Regions from separate parts of the Homo sapiens genome. Here region 2 is linked to region 1. Evidence: fine-mapped expression QTL. Tissue or cell type: whole blood. Region 1 holds a variant in brackets; the other region holds the start of a gene. All regions are shown on one strand. Distances are from middle to middle.

Region 1 (8,000 bases):
TCCATCTCTCTCTCTCCATCCCTCTTTTCATCTCTTTCTCCCCATCTCTCTCTTTCCATCTCTCTCCATCTCTTTCTCCTCATCTCTCTCTTTCGATCTCTGTCTTTCCATCTCTCTCTCCATCTCTCCCTCCCCATCTCTCTCTTTCCATCTCTCTCCATCTCTTTCTCCCCATCTCTCTCTTTCGATCTCTGTCTTTCCATCTCTCTCTCCATCTCTCCCTCCCCATCTCTCTCTTTCCATCTCTCTCCATCTCTTTCTCCCCATCTCTCTCTTTCAATCTCTGTCTTTCCATCTCTCTCTCCATCTCTCCCTCCCCATCTCTCTCTTTCCATCTCTCTCCATCTCTTTCTCCCCATCTCTCTCTTTCGATCTCTGTCTTTCCATCTCTCTCTCCATCTCTCCCTCCCCATCTCTCTCTTTCCATCTCTCTCCATCTCTTTCTCCCCATCTCTCTCTTTCAATCTCTGTCTTTCCATCTCTCTCTCCATCTCTCCCTCCCCATCTCTCTCTTTCCATCTCTCTCCCCATCCCTCTCTTCCCATCTCTCTCCCCATCTCTTGCTTTTGATCTCTCTCTCCCCATCTCTCTCTTTCCATCCCTCTCCTCATCTCTCTCTTTCCATCTCTCTCTACTCATCTCTCTCTTTCCACCTCTCTTCCTATCTCTCTCCCCCATCTCTCTCTTTGCATCTCTCTCCTCTCCATCTCTGTCCCCATCTCTCTCTTTCCATCTCTCTTCCCTTCTCTCTCTTTCCATTTCTCTCCCCATCTCTGTCTTTCCACCACTCTCCCCATCTCTCTTTTCTCATCTTTCTCTTTCCATCTCTTTCCCTATCTTTTTCCATCTCTCTTCCCTTCTCTCTTTCCATCTCTCTCCCCTTCTCTCTCTTTCCATCGCTGTCCCCATCTCTCTCTTTCCATCGCTCTCCCCATCTCTCTCTTTCCACATCTCTCTCCCCATCTAATTCCATCTTTCTCTCCCCATCTCTCTCTTCCCATCTGTCTCTCCCCATGTCTCTCTTTCCACCTCTCTCCCCATCTTTCTCTCCATCTCTCTTTACCCATCTGCCTCTCCACATCTGTTTCTCTCCATCTCTCTCATCTCTTGCTCTCTGTCTCCATCTCTCTCTCTCTCTCTCTCTCTCTCTCTCTCTCTCTCTCTCTCTCTCTCTCTCCCCTCTTCCCACACCCCCCCACACCCTACACTCTTCAGCTCTTTAGTTGTGATTCTCTGGAGAACACTGATGAATACACCCACTGTTGTTCCTGGGGATCACCTCCCAAAGAAACTTCTCACACTTCTTTCAGGGTTTGCTTCTGGGTGAACCCAAACCGGGACACAGGCAGAACAGCACTCCCCCACCATCCCAAATTGCAAAGTCCCTCCCATACTGAATAACAGAAAACCTCCATTTTGGGAAAATGTCTTTTTTTTTTTTTTAAAGGGAAAATCTCCAATATCGTAGTTTGAGGGTAAAAAGCCCATGAGGGGAGAGCCCAGTGGGCTTGTTTCCCCATGACTCACACAATGACATGGCTCTGTGTGAAGGATTCTGAATGCAGCCATCAGGCATACCTTGTGTGTCTCCCTGGATGATGTCACTGCAACGGATGTCCATTGAGTTCATTTGGACGTTCAAGTTGAATGTCTTTCTTTCTTCAGAGCAATTGTCTGTAATCGCTTGAGTTTCAATAGCTGGTAAGAAAAGCAATGGGCAGGCTTAGTGATATTGTAAGAAACTTTAAAAATATGCATAGGAACAGGACATGGTGGTGCATGCCTGTAGTCCCAACTACTCAAGAGGCTGAGGCAGAAGGATTGCTTGGGCCCAGGAATTTGAGCCCAGGCAACACAGTGAGATGCTGCCTCTAAAAAAAAAATGTTCATAGCAACATAAATGGCTCACATATACTGAATGTCTAGGATGTGTCGGGCACTGAGCTAAGAGTCTTACACATGTCACCTTATAAACCTATAACTTCATCAGGGACAACTCTATAGATGAGGAAACTGAAGTCAGAAGTTAGGTAAGACTCTAATTCCTGAAACCAAGTTCTTAACTAACAGCTCTTAGCATACACCTTTGAAGATACAGTTCTATTTCTAGGAGTTTATTCTCAGAAAACGATTGTGGATGGAGGGCAGATTTAGCTACAAGAAAGTTCATAGCAGCTTAGATGATAATGGTGGAAAATGGGGGATTATCTAGATGTTCAACAAGAGGTGATTGATTAAATAAGTGATGATATGGGCTGGGCACAGTGGCTCATGCTTGTAATCCCAGCACTTTGGGAGGCCATGGCAGGTGGATTGCTTGAGGCCAGGAGTTCAAGACCAGCCTGGCCAACATGGTGAAACCCCATCCCTACTAAAAATACAAAAATTATCTGGGCATGGTGGTGTGCACCTGTAATCTCAGCTACTTGGGAGGCTGAGGCACGAGAATAGTTTGAACCGGGGAGGCAGAGGTTGCAGTGAGCTGAGATCACGCCACTGTACTCCAGCCTGGATGATGGAGTGAGACTCTGTCTCAAAAATAAGTAAGTAAGTAAATAAATAAATAAGTGATGATATATCTCTGTGGTGGGGAACCAGGGCTTCAAATAAAAATAAAGTCACAAATGAATTGCAATCAAGAAAAACTCATGAGAAAAAAGGTAACCATGTGAGTGATGGATGTGTTAGCTAATTTGATTGTGGTGATCATTCCACAGTATATATGTATATCAAGTCATCCTATTGTACACCTTAAATATATACAATTTTCTTTATCAATTACACCTTAATAAAGCTAAAAAATGTTAAGCTCATGAAAATATGTATCTTAAAAACAGACAACCCAAGACTGGCTGTGAGATGGAAATCGTTGAATTGGGTGATGGGTGCATCAGGGATTTTATTCTCCTATTTCCTTTTGTGCATATTAAAAGGTTAAAAAAAAAAAGAAGCAAGCAACAAAACAGCACATCAAGAATGACACTATTTTATGGCTGGGTGCAGTGGCTCATGCCTGAATTCCCAGCACTTTTGCAGGCTGAGGCCAGTTGATTGCTTGAGGTCAGGAGTTCAAGACCAGCCTGGCCAACATGGTGAAATCCCATTCTACTAATACACAAAAATTAGCTGGTCATGGTGGCAGGCACCTTTAATCCCAGCTACTAGGAAGGCTGAGGCAGGAGAATTGCTTGAACCCAGGAGGCAGAGGTTGCAGTGACCTAGATCATGCCACTGCATTCCAGCCTGGGCAATAGAATGAGACTCCATCTCAAAAAAAAAAAAAGAAAAAAAAAAAAAGAATGACATTAATGACATTCTAGAAACTACTACTGGTTTGTCTAATATTGACTCTCAGTTTTTGAAAAGTTTACAAGTATTTACTCTAATTATGTATTAATGTTTTTGGCCTACTGTTTCATTCATTTAGTA[C/T]GTTTTAATGAATAGAAATTCTTGAGCTCAGTGTAAGTGAATTTATTGTTATTATTATTATTTTTGAGATGGAGTCTTGCTCTTTTGCCCAGGCTGGAGTGCAGTGGCTTGCTCTCAGCTAACTGCAACCTCTGTCCCCCGGGTTCAAGCGATTCTCCTTCCTCAGCCTCACAAGTAGCTGGGATTACAGGCATGCACCACCACGCCTGGCTAATTTTTTTTAGTAGAAACAGGGTTTCACCATGTTGGCCAGGCTGATCTCGAACTCCTGACCTCAAGTGATCCGCCTGCCTTAGCCTCCAAAAGTGCTAGGATTACAGGATGAGCCACCTCATCCTGCCCACAATGTTAATTTCATCATCCATTATATTATCGCTTGTTACTCTTTGTCATTTTTATCAAACCTCAATTTGACTTGTTTTTATATTATTTAATATTTTCTACATTAAACTATGTGTTTCCTGTAAAAAAGAATGACACTATTTTGACAATATTTCATAATATTAAAGAGTGGAAAGATAGAATAATCATAATTATAGCAATTACTACCGTAGTTTTTCTTCTTTCTTAAAAGTTTGAGTCGTTTAGCTTCTGAGGGATCCTAGTCCTAGGTGCATTACATGCACTTTCATTATCTCTATTAAAATTTTTTTTTGAGACAGGCTCTCACTCTGTTGTCCAGGCTGGAGTGCAGTGGTGCAATCTCAGCTCACTGCAGCCTCGAACTCCTGGGCTCAAGCGATCCTCCCACCTCAGCCTCCTAAGTAGCTGGGACCTCATTTGCACACCACCATGTCCAGCTAATATTATCCTCATTTTATTGACAGGAGAATGAAGCCCAATGAGGTGAGGGCACTGGTCTCAGATCAAACAGTTAGGACGTGGCAAAATCAGGAGAGATGAGATTTACTTGCAATCTGGAAAATGGTTTAATTTTGAACCAAAGTATCCAGATTCCAGTTTTCCAAGAAGAATAGGCACTGACTTTTTCAAAGCCTGCTGTGTGTGTGTTTTTTTTTTTTTTTTTTTTAATTTAAGATGGAGTCTTGCTCTGTCACCCAGGCTGGAGTGCAGTGATGTGATCTCGGCTCACTGCAACCTCTGCCTCCCCAGTTCAAGTGATTCTCCCACCTCAGCCTCTGGAGTAGCTGGGATTACAGTCATGAGCTACCACGCCCCGCTAATTTCTGTATTTTTAGTAAAGATTAAGTTTCACCATGTTGCCCAGGCTGATCTCAAACTACTGGCCTCAAGTGATCCACCCACCTTGGCCTCCCAAAGTGCTGGGATTATAGGTGTAAGCCACCATGCCCAGCCCAAAACCTGTTTTTTTTTTTTTTTTAATGAGACAGGTTCTTGTTCTGTCATCCAGGTTGGAGTGGCAATGGCATGATCATAGTTCACTGCACCCTCAAACTCCTGGACTCAAGCCATCCTCTCCCTCAGCCTCCCAAGTAGCTGAGACCACAGGTACAAGCCACTGCACCTGGCAAATTTTAAATTTTTTTTAAAGAGATGGGGGTCTTGCTATGTTGCCCAGGCCAGTCTTGAGCTCCTGGGCTGAATTAACCCTCCCGCCTCAGCCTCCCAAAGTGCTGGGAATACAGTCGTGAGCCATCATGCCTGGTCCTCAAACTACATTTAAGTGAAAATTCCAGACCTGGGATTGGAAACTATTGGCAATCTTCTGAATAAACAACTTTATTGAGGTATAATTGATGTCTAACCAACTGCACATATTAAAGTGTACAATCTGGTGAGTTTTGTTGGGTGCACACACCTCTGAAATCAACACCACAATCAAGGCAGGAAGATTTCCATCACCCCTAATAGTTTCCCCAGATTTTCTCATGCCTCTGCCACCCCTCCCTCCTGCCCCTCCCTGTCACTCTAGATAAGTTTGCGTTTTCTAGAATTTATATAAATTTTTGTAATTTACATAAAGGGACTCATGTGGTGTATTCAATTTTTTTTTTCTAATTGCCTAACCCAGATCCCAGCTGCTAACCAGTCCCCAGGGTGTATCAGTCCTCATTATTGTCTTACCTACACTATCGTTTTGGATTTTCAGGACTTTTTGTTCTGGATCTTTCAAGGCAGTTTCTAGAACTTTCGATTCCACATCCCGGAGAATAGTGGTAGCTGTGGATGAGATTTCTTGTCTCCCTTCTGTTCTCCATAAAGTCTGATTGGTGAGAAGTGACTCAAATTTGTCCACAATCTTTTGCAGCTTTGAAGACATAAAGAATTTTCATTTTTTAAAAATGTAATCTGGTAAGTCCCATATCCAAAAGAACAGTAGAAAGCATGAGAAAGCAGGCTCTGGAGCTGGAGGAACCACGTTCAAATCCTGGCACTTCATCATGTCCCAGCTTTGTGACCTTGGGCAAGTCACTCAATCACTCTGTGCCCCACGACAGGAAAAGGAACTCAAAGGGTTTTTCTGGAGGATTAAATGAGTTAACAGATGCTCTTCTTTTAGGACAGTGTCTGTATCTGGTAAAAGCTATGTAAGGGTGAGTCACTATTATTATTTTTGAGACAGAGTATTGCTCTGTCGCCCAGGCTAGAGTGCAGTGGTGGGATCTTGGCTCACTGCAACCTCCAGCTCCTGGGTTCAAGTGATTCTCATGCTTCAGTCTCCTGAGTAGCTGGGATTACAGGTGCACACCGCCATGCTTGCTTAATTTTTTTAATTTTTTTTTTTGTATAGACAGGGTCTTGCTATGTTGCCCAGGCTGGTCTGGAACTCCTGGGCTCAAACGATTCTCCTGCCTTGGCCTTCCAAAGTGATGGGATTATAGGAGTGAGCCACCGTGCCTGATTGGGTTAGTTATTATTAACGTTTTTTGCCAACAAGGTAGTGATAAGTTTGTTAGAAATAGACCAGTGGTTCTCAACGGGGGGGTGATTCTGCTACTCCCTCCACAGGGCACATGTGGCGATGGCTGGAGACATTTTCGGTTGTCACTGTCGCAACAAGGGAGTGGTTGCCACTATTGAAGCAGCGTCACTGTCTGGGGTAAATACCCAGAGTTTGTCATCTTGCGCCAAGATGAAGGACATGGACACACACGAGGAGTGAGTTTAGGAGTGGAGGTTTAATAGGCAAAAGAAAAAGAAAAGAGGGCAGGGTGCGGTGGCTCATGCCTGTAATCCCAGAACTTTGGAAGGCCGAGGGGGGTGGATCATCTGAGGTCAGGAGTTCAAGACCAGTCTGACCAACATGGTGAAACCCCATCTCTACTGAAAATACAAAATTAGCCGGGCATGGTGGCGCGTGCCTGTAATCCCAGCTAGTTGGGATGCTGAGGCAGGAGAATCGCTTGAACCTGGAAGGCAGAGGAGGCAGATGTTGTAGTGAGCCGAGATCACATCACTGCACTCCAGCCTGGGTGACAGAGTGAGACTCCATCTCAAAAAAAAAAAAAAAAGAAAAGAAAAAAAAAAAAGAAAGTAGAACAGCTCTCTCCCTTGCGAGAGAGAGGGATGCCCGAAAGAAAGCAAAATCCTGCCCACCGACTAGATTTTATATTCAGGCACTAGATTTTATAGTCAGGCTGAGGAGGCGGTGTCTGAATTATGTAGGGCCCACAGATTGGTTGGGCCAGGTGCGACATTTACTTACTGCTCGGGGAAGGCTGGTTGCCCTACCCACTTGGCCAGTACCATCTTGTCTGCTCCTTACTGTACACGTGACTGGCAAAGAGAAGGGAAGATGGAGCTGCCATTTTGATCATGTCTAGTCCCAGGCAGCCTTTTCCTATTGGCACAGCTGCTGGCATTGACCCATAAGCTTCCAGCTTGCTTGTCTATGTCCGCAGCTTGATTTTACAGGCTGCTCTTTGTTAGAAAAGAAAATTTGGGGCTGCTCTTCATTAAAAGGAAAACCTCACTGAGGACTTCCGTACCCTCACCATCTGCCTAAGTAATTTCTTCTTAACTCCTATATCATTGTGTATTTATTTATTTATTTTTGAGATGGAGTCTTACTCTGTTGCCCAGGCTGGAGTGCAGTGACGTGATCTCAGCTCACTGCAACCTCTGCCTCCTGGGTTCAAGTGATTCTCCTGCTTCAGCCTCCTGAGTAGCTGGGATTACAGGCATGCGCCCCCATGCCCGGCTAATTTTTGTGTTTTTTGTAGACATGGGGGTTTCATCATGTTGGCCAGGCTGGTCTTGAACTTCTGACCTCGGGTGATCCACCCACCTCCCAAAGTGCTGGGATTACAGGCATTAGCCGCCATGCCCGGCCTGATTACTTGATTCTTTATTTGTTCATTACTTCAGTGATCATTCCTTGAACTCCTAATTTGGGGTTGGTCTTATTCCCTTCCTCAAAAAGCTCACAGTCTAGGGATTGATTACATGATGTAATCACATATTTATATAAATGCCGTCAGTTGGCCGGAGACAATAATGGATACCATTGGATACTTGGATGTCTTTTGCAGCAGTGCAGCAGGCCTTAATATACTCTCTCTTGGCCTGTCTTTCTTGGTCTGGGATAGATTCCTGTCTTTAGATGGCAACACACACACGCTCATACACACACACTCACACACTGTCAT
Region 2 (8,130 bases), 21 kb after region 1:
ATTAAGAAATGGAGGCACAGAGAAGGTAAGTAACTTGCTCCATTCACTGGGGCTAGTCAGTGGCAGAGCTGAGGTTAAACACGGGTTCTGGGTTCTAGCTGATAACCCATTACACCACATAGCCTCTCCTTCAGAAATCCCACAGGGCACTACCTGCATGGAAGTGCTGTTCAGATTGTAGACACTGTAGGTTGGCATGTTTATTGTGACAGTGACTTGTCCTTTTTTCCCCCGGCAGATGCCACTCACCAGATCTGACTGGAGCCTCAAAGTCCCGTAGAGAGTGGTATGTGACTTGGTCATTTAGGGCAGTGCAGACCAATTGTAGGATTTTGGAGAAGAGGCCCTGGGGGCTAACTGTGTGACTCTTCAGGAGAGGTAATGGCAGCAATCTAAATCCTTCTGGATCTCTCTCTTGAGTTTCCAATTGCTGCTATCACAAATTACCATGACTGTAGTGGCTTAAAACAACACTGATTTATTATTCTCTTACAGGTCTGGAAGTCAGAAGTCTTAAATCAGCCTCTATAGGCTAAAATCAAGAATGTTAGTAGGGCTGGTTTCTTTTGGAAGCTCTAGGGGAGAATCTGTCTCCTTGCCTTTTCCAGCTTCTAGAAGCTGCCTGCATTTCTTGGCTCACGGACCCTTCCTCCTTCTTTAAATCCAGCAGCACAGCATCTTCTCGTCTTCCTGATCTTCCACCTCCCTCTTAAGAGGACCTTTGTGATTATTATATTAGGCCCCCTGGAAAATTCAGGGTACTACCCCCATATTAAGATTCTTATCTTAATCAACATCTGCAAAGTTTCTTTTACCATGTAAGGTAACATATTAACAGGTTCCAGGGATTAGGATGTGGATGTCTCTGGGGGGACTGTTATTTTTCTTCCTGTAATTCTCACCCTTCCCCCAAGAAGATGCCAGGTCTGGTTTGTGATCAGTTACTTATGCAATTGCATTCACAGAACATTTTGAATATTCTCAGCTGGGCTTAATGTCAGGCTGATGTTTCCTTTAAAGTCCCCTTCCTTCTACATTTTTTATTTTTATTTTTATTTTTTTGAGGCAGGTTCTTTTTCTGTTGCCCCGGTTGGAGTGCAGTGGTGCAATCATACCTCACTGTAGCCTTGAACTCCTGGGCTACATGCATGAGATACCACTTGTGGCCAATTAAAAAAAATTTTTTTGGTAGAGATTGGGTCTTGCTGTGTTGACCGAGCTGGTCTTGAACTGTTGGCCTCAAGTGATCCTCCTTCTGTGGCCTCCCAAAGTGTTGGCATTATATGCGTGAGGCACTTTCTTCTTTTGTATATACATGAATGTGTAGCAGCCACACAAACCTTACGCCTGCCCAAATGATGACTAGCTCACAGGGCCAACTGATAAACCATATGGCTGAATAGTGTTACCCTGTTCCTAAAACTCAGGCAGTCTGGGGGACCATCATGTTTCCTTAAGACTAGTCTTTAGTCTAACCAGCAAGCCTGTACTCACTAATTTGGGCAAAGGTCTTAAGTTAGGGTTTCTGAAGAGTCATCGGTGTGTCAGAATCCCAGAGTTCTAAGAAACTTTAGAAATCATCCACTGACTTATTTTGTAGATGAGGAAACAGGTCCCCTGGGGTTAAGTGGCTGGCACACTAGTTGGGCAAATTTGGGTAAGTTGTTTAACTTCTCTAAGCTTCCTTATGTGAAATAGGGTGGCAGTATGACCTACTTTGTGGGGTTTTGGAGATGACCTAAATGAGGGACTGTGTAGAGCACAATGTCAGGCAGGAAGTCCTCCACTGATACTGGCTGCCTCTGTCACCATCTGACTTCCTCCTTTCCCATTTGGATGCTTTTTCTTTCTCTCTTTTTGCCTAATTGCTCTAGCTTGCTGCCTATATTATCATTTGAGCTCTGTTGCTCAGGCTGGAGTGCAGTGATGCAATCACAGCTCATTGTAACCTTGAACTCCTGAGCTCAAGCGATCCTCCCACCTCAGCCTCCAGGGTAGCTGGGACTGCAGGTGTGTGCCACCATGACTGGCTAATTTTTTTTTTTAATGTTTCTTGGAGACAGAGTCTTGCTATGTTGCTCAGTCTGGTCTTGAACTCCTGGCTCAAGCAATCTTCCCGCCTTGCCTTCCAAAGCTTTGGGATTATAGGTATGAGCCTCCATGCCCAACCCTGGAATCCTAATTCTTGACCCAATGCTCATATCATCACCCTTGCCTGTACCATCCAGTGATATGGGCTAAAAGTTCCTGGATAACCAAAATTCACTAATAATCCACCTCAGAAGTGTGGAGGACTCTGTCTCCAGTTGCAAAAAGGCAGGCTTCTTTCACATTTGATTCCACATATACTGAAACACCTCTTATATATAAGATGCTATGCTAGGGGTTGCAAAGGTGAGGGAGACATGGCATTAGGATTTAAGTGTAGCTTGTATTATTTTGATAGAATTTACAGCCTATCAGCTGCCTCTGCAGCAGAATAGCTGTGAGGCTTTGAGAAATTCACAGAACCTCTCTATGATGCAATTTCTTATCTGTAATGTGCAGATGCTATGTGACAATGTAAAGCAATTTAAGCCTAATGCCAGGCTAAAGTAGCTGCTTAATAAATGTAAGCTTTGATTGATATTGGGACTATCAATATTGTTAATTCATCTGGAGCTGGAAAGATGGATGGGATTTCATCCGTACAGAGATGGTGGTTGAAGCCATGGAATTAGGAGATTCCCATAGGGAGAGGGAGTAGAAAAACAGAAGATCCCAGTAAGGATCCTGTGGGAGGAGCATTATAGCAAAGATCTGGAGACAGATGGTTTGGATTCAAATCCCAGCTCTCTTATTTACTAGCTGTGTGATGTTGGACAAATAACATAACCTGTGCCCCAGTTTTCTTATCTGTAAGATGAGGATACCCCATGAGCATACTGATGATGCAACAGATTAATACATGTAAGGTGCATAGTGAGTTTTCAAAAATGTTGGTTATCATTATTTTCTTTGTATAAATTTATGGGATACAAGTGTAATTTTGTTACACGCATAGATTTCATAGTGGTGAAGTCAGGGCTTTTAGAGTATCCACCATCCAAATGATGTACATTGTAACCATTAGGTAACTTCTTATTTTCCACTGTCCTTCTACTCCCTCAGCCTTCCCAGTCTTCATCGTCTATCATTCTACTCTCTATGTCCATGTGTCCACATTATTTAGCTCCCACTGATAAACAAGAACATGAGGCATTTGTCTTTTGGTGTTTGAGTTATTTCACTTAATATAATGACCTCTAAAATTAATAATAAAATTATCATTTATTTTCTTGTCACAGGAAAATGATAAAGGAGGGAGAAGAAAGAATAGCAAGAGAAAAAGGAAAAAAGTCAGGGCAGGGCTAGTTTGCAGAAGTTATCAAGAAGGAGAAGACATCAATTAGAAAACAAAACTTGCCAAGAGGAAGATGAACAACGTATTAGAGACCGGGTGCGGTGGCTCATGCCTGTAATCCTAGCACTTTGGCAGGCTGAGGCGGGTGGATCACCTGAGGTCAGGAGTTCGAGACCAGCCAGGGCAACATGGTGAAACCCCATCTCTACTAAAAATACAAAAATTAGCCAGGTGTGGTGATGTGTGCCTGTAATCCCAGCTACTCAGGAGGCTGAGGCAGGAGAATCACTTGAACCCGGGAGGCAGAGGTTTCAGTGAGTCAAGATTGCGCCACTGCACTCCAACCTGGGTGACAGAGTGAGATTCTGTCTCAAAAAACAAAACAAAACAAACAAACAAAACAAACAAAAAACCAAGCTACTAGATTGGATAGGAACATTTTAGGGATATTCGAGAGCATACTTTGAATAGGGTAGTCAGGAAGGAAACCACACTCCAAAGGGAAAAGGTGAGAGTGTTCAGAGCAGAAGAAAGAGGAGGAGAAAATAACCAATTGTTGAACCAAGTGGTCCCTGACTGGGGGATAGGTTAAGCCTCAGTCATTGTTACAGTCACACATACCTGGAAGAAGCAATGGTCCCTGCATTTCTGTGGTACGGGTATCCCACGCCAGCCAGCCCTGGAAGCTCTCTACTGTGCCGTAAGCCAACCACCTTTCCTAGCTCAAGAAATCCCATGAGAATTGAAGTATGTATCTTAGGTCAGCTGACTCATGAAATTGCTATCAGAAAAGCAAACTGCTTCCCCTCTTTCGCCATCAGACTCATGGTTCTGCTTTTCGTTTATTTGCTGTACCTTTTCTGCCTAGCTATTGTTGATCACCTTTGGGATGATTGAGTTGGTAAACCCTAACGAGGAAATGCCCTGAAAGTTACATCACATTGTCTGAGGATTAGGAAGTGCCTTTGGGGCCAAAATAAATCTTAAATAAGCCTGTGGCTTTGAGGTGAGTAAACCAGATTTTAGGGTGTCTGTGTTGGTATCTGAAGTTTCCAGAGGAGTCATTTTAACATATCTTTCTCTTCCCCCAGTAGATGATACTTACTGGTTATGATTGCTGAGCCATAAGAAGTTAAGAGTCCCAAAGTCTCATAGAAGGTAATACATTATTTGGTTATTTGGACCAACCCTAACCAGTCACAGGACTTGGGAGAAAAAGTCTGTAAATCTACCCTTCCTCCAGCAAATATTTATTTATTTATTTATGTGGGTCTTGCTCTGTTACCCAGGCTGGAGTGCCGTGGCACAATCATAGCTCACTGCAACCTCAAACTCCTGGGCTCCAGCGATCCTCCCACCTCAGTCCTCTGAATCGTTAGGACTACAGGTGCATGCCACCACGCCTGGCTAATTTTTTTTAGTTTTTATTTTTTTTTTTGAAGAGAGACAGGGCCTCGCTTTGTAGCCCAGGCTTGTCTTGAATTTCTGGGCTCAAGCAATCCTTCTGCCTCAGTCTCCCAGTGTTGAGATTACCGGTGTGAGCCACTGCACCCGGCTCCCCTGCTTAAAACTCTTCTGAAGCTCTTCATTAGACTTAAAACACCAGACTTCCTACTGAAGCAGTGTTGTTGTCTGGGGTTCATCCTCTCATGCCAAGTAAATCAAGGATGCGGATGCACAAGAAGTGAATTTAAGGCCGAGCACTGTGGCTCACCCTTGTAATCCCAGCACTTTGGGAGGCTGAGACGGGCGGATCACCTGAGGTCAGGAGTTCAAGACCAGCCAAGCCAACATGGTGAAACCCTGTCTGTACTAAAAATACAAAAATTAGCTGGGCATGGTGGCGCATGCCTGTAATCCCAGCTACTCGGAAGGCTGAAGCGGGAGAATTGTTTGAACCCGGGAGGCAGAGGTTGCCGTGAGCGAAGATTGCGCCAGTTCCTTCCAGCCTGGGTGACAGAGTGAGACTTCATCTAAAAAAAAAAAAAAAAAAGTGAGTTTCAGAGCAGAAGTTTAACAGGCAAGAGAAGAGAAAAAAGAGAAAAGCTCTATCCTGCAGAGAGAGAGGGGCTCCCAAGTGAGTCTTCTGGTCTCGTGGTGAAATACATGGGGTTTTATAGCCGAGCTTGAGGAGGAGCTGTCTGATTTACACAGGAACCGAGAGATTGGTCGGACTGGGTGTGCTGTTTGCATAGCACGCAAAGAAGCTGGCCGCCCCATCCTCATCTTTTACTATGCAGATGGGGTCTCTACCTGGCTGGCACTATGTTGCCTGCTTTTTTACTGCACACGTGGTGATAAAGAAAAGGGAACATGGTGAAACCCCGTCTCTACTAAAAATACAAAAAATTAGCCGGGCGCGGTGGCGGGCGCCTGTAGTCCCAGCTACTCGGGAGGCTGAGGCAGGAGAATGGCGTGAACCCGGAAGGCGGGGCTTGCAGTGACCCGAGATAGCGCCACTGCAGTCTGGCCTGGGCGAAAGAGCGAGACTCTGTCTCAAAAAAAAAAAAAAAAAAAAAAAAGGGAAGAGGGAACCTCCATGTTGAACATGCCTGCCCCCAGGAAGCCTTTTCCTATTGGCACAGCCGCTGCATTTACCTTTGCAAACTTCCAGCTTGCTTATTTATGTTTGTAGCTCGATTTTGCAGACTGCTCTTTGTCGTGGTGGTGATGATGATGATGGTGATAATAACGGTTGTGGTGGTGATGGTGGTAATCATGGTAGTGGCAGGAGTGATGGTGGAGCTATAGGTGGTGGTGGTGACGATGAAGGAAGGGATGATGGTGATGATGACGATGGTTGCGATGATGGTGAAGATGATGAAAGTGACGGTGATGGTAGTAGCGATGGTGATGGTTACATTATGGTGATATTTTCAGAGATGGTGGTGATGATGGTGATTGAAGGTGACAGCTGCAGTGAAGGTGATTGTTGTGGTGATGGTGACGAAGGCTGTGATAGCAGTGGTGATAATGATGGGGTGAAAATAGCAAAGGTGGTGGTTATATTGGTAGTGGAGGTAAAGACGAAAAGAAATGATTTTGGGGCTGCTTTTTGTTAACAGGGAAGCCTTACTGAGGACTCTCTTACCCTCACCAGTTGCCTGAATAATATCTTTTTAGCTCTTGTATCACTAGATACAACAGGAACAAAAAGGAACAAACAAACAGGCAAACAAACAAAAAAACCACTGCAAGAAAGTAGCCCTGGTGGCAACTGAAGACACGGTCATGGATTAAATCATTTAGGGAGAGATTATAGAGTGGAAAAAGAACCCTGAGTAATTCATTTAAAAACTCAGGCAATGTTAATTTGTGCAAAGGCAATAGAAAAAAATTAAAAAAAATAAAGGAATGGAGAGGCAGCTAATAGAGGAGACAGGACGAGAATGGCCAGAGAGATGAGGGGTGGGGGTGGGAAATGAATGGAGTATGGTATTATGGAGGTAAAGGAAAGAGATCACACTGAATTAAGACTGAAAGACACCCACAGGAGAGAGCTGCAAGGGGGTTGTTTGTATTCTTAGCATGAACAATTACAGTAGTGAAGGTGGTGGTGGTGGTGATGATGCTGATGCTGATGATAGCGGTTGTGGTGGTGGTTGTTATATATAAAGTTTCGGTGACGTGAAAGAAATAGCACTTGAATATAAAATTTTCCTTTTAATTCTCAGCAAGGCAAGTTACTTCAATATAGAAGGGTGTGCCCTTACAGATGGAACAGTGGCGAGCGCACATTCGGACATGGGAGGGGAAGGGGTTCTTATCCCTGACTCAGGTGGCCCCTGCTGCTGTGTCGTTCCCCTATTGGCTAGGATTAGACCGCGCAGGCTAAACTAATGCCGATTGGCTAATTTAAAGAGAATGACGGGGTGAGTGCTTTGGCGGGAGTCAGGGCAGAGCAGGTAGCAGGTAATCGGAATGAGTTAGGGTGGAGCAGGTGATCAGAATGAGTCAGGGTGGAGTAGGTAATCGAAAAAGCTGCTTTACGAGGAAGTTAAGTTTAAAAGTAGAAGGCAAAGAATTGAACATACTGACATATTAATTCTTTGAAAATAAATTTAGAACTCATATCTAACATGGTGATGATGATGATGATAATAACGGTTGTGGTGGTGATGATGATGGTGATAGAATGGTTGCAGTGGTGATGGTGGTCATCATGGTAGTGGCAGTAGCGATGGTGGTGGTAGAGGTCGTGGTGGTGATGACGGAAGTGATGATGGTGGTGATGATGATGGTTGCGATGGGGCTGAAGGTGACGAAAGTGACGACGGTGGTAGTAGCAATGGTGGTGGTAACATCACAGTGATGTTTTCAGAGATGGTGGTGATGATGGTGATTGATGGTGACAGTTGTAGTGAAGGTGACTGTTGTGATGGTGATGAAGGCTGTGATAGCAGTGGTGATGAAGATGGGAGTGAAAATAGTGGCGGTGGTGGTTATGTTGATAGTGGAGGTAAAGATGGTGGTGATGCCAATAATGGTAGGGAAGGTGGTGGAGGTTGTTGTTATAATGGTTCAAGCCAGAATTATGTGGATTGAGGAAAAAGCGCGAGGGGAAGAAGTGGAGACAGCAAGTGAAGTCACCTGTAAAGACAGTTGGAGAAAAAAGTATGAGCAAAGCAAGATGATCAAGAGACCTCCCTGGGTGTTTGGAGCATGGTGGAATTAGCTGGCTATTGGGATTGTCAAGGCCATGAACGTACGTAGTAGGTTTGTTGGGCTCTCAACATCCTACTGTCCCA

What was found. PIP is the estimated chance that this variant, and not a neighbour inherited with it, causes the effect.
Region 2: it holds the start of ADGRE3, and the variant in region 1 is fine-mapped to the expression of ADGRE3 in whole blood (INTERVAL, PIP 0.96).

The regions. Positions count from the first base shown.
Region 1 is chr19:14,649,507-14,657,506 of GRCh38, forward strand. It overlaps ADGRE3 (adhesion G protein-coupled receptor E3), which reads right to left. Exons shown (of 16, transcript NM_032571.5): 6 at 5,476-5,659; 7 at 1,579-1,698. Among named protein-coding and RNA genes, the nearest start is that of ADGRE3, 21 kb to the right of the region's middle. The variant C/T (reference allele first, on the strand shown) is at 3,430.
Region 2 is chr19:14,670,743-14,678,872 of GRCh38, forward strand. ADGRE3 (adhesion G protein-coupled receptor E3) reads right to left here and starts at 4,102. Exons shown (of 16, transcript NM_032571.5): 1 at 4,004-4,102. The coding sequence starts at 4,028.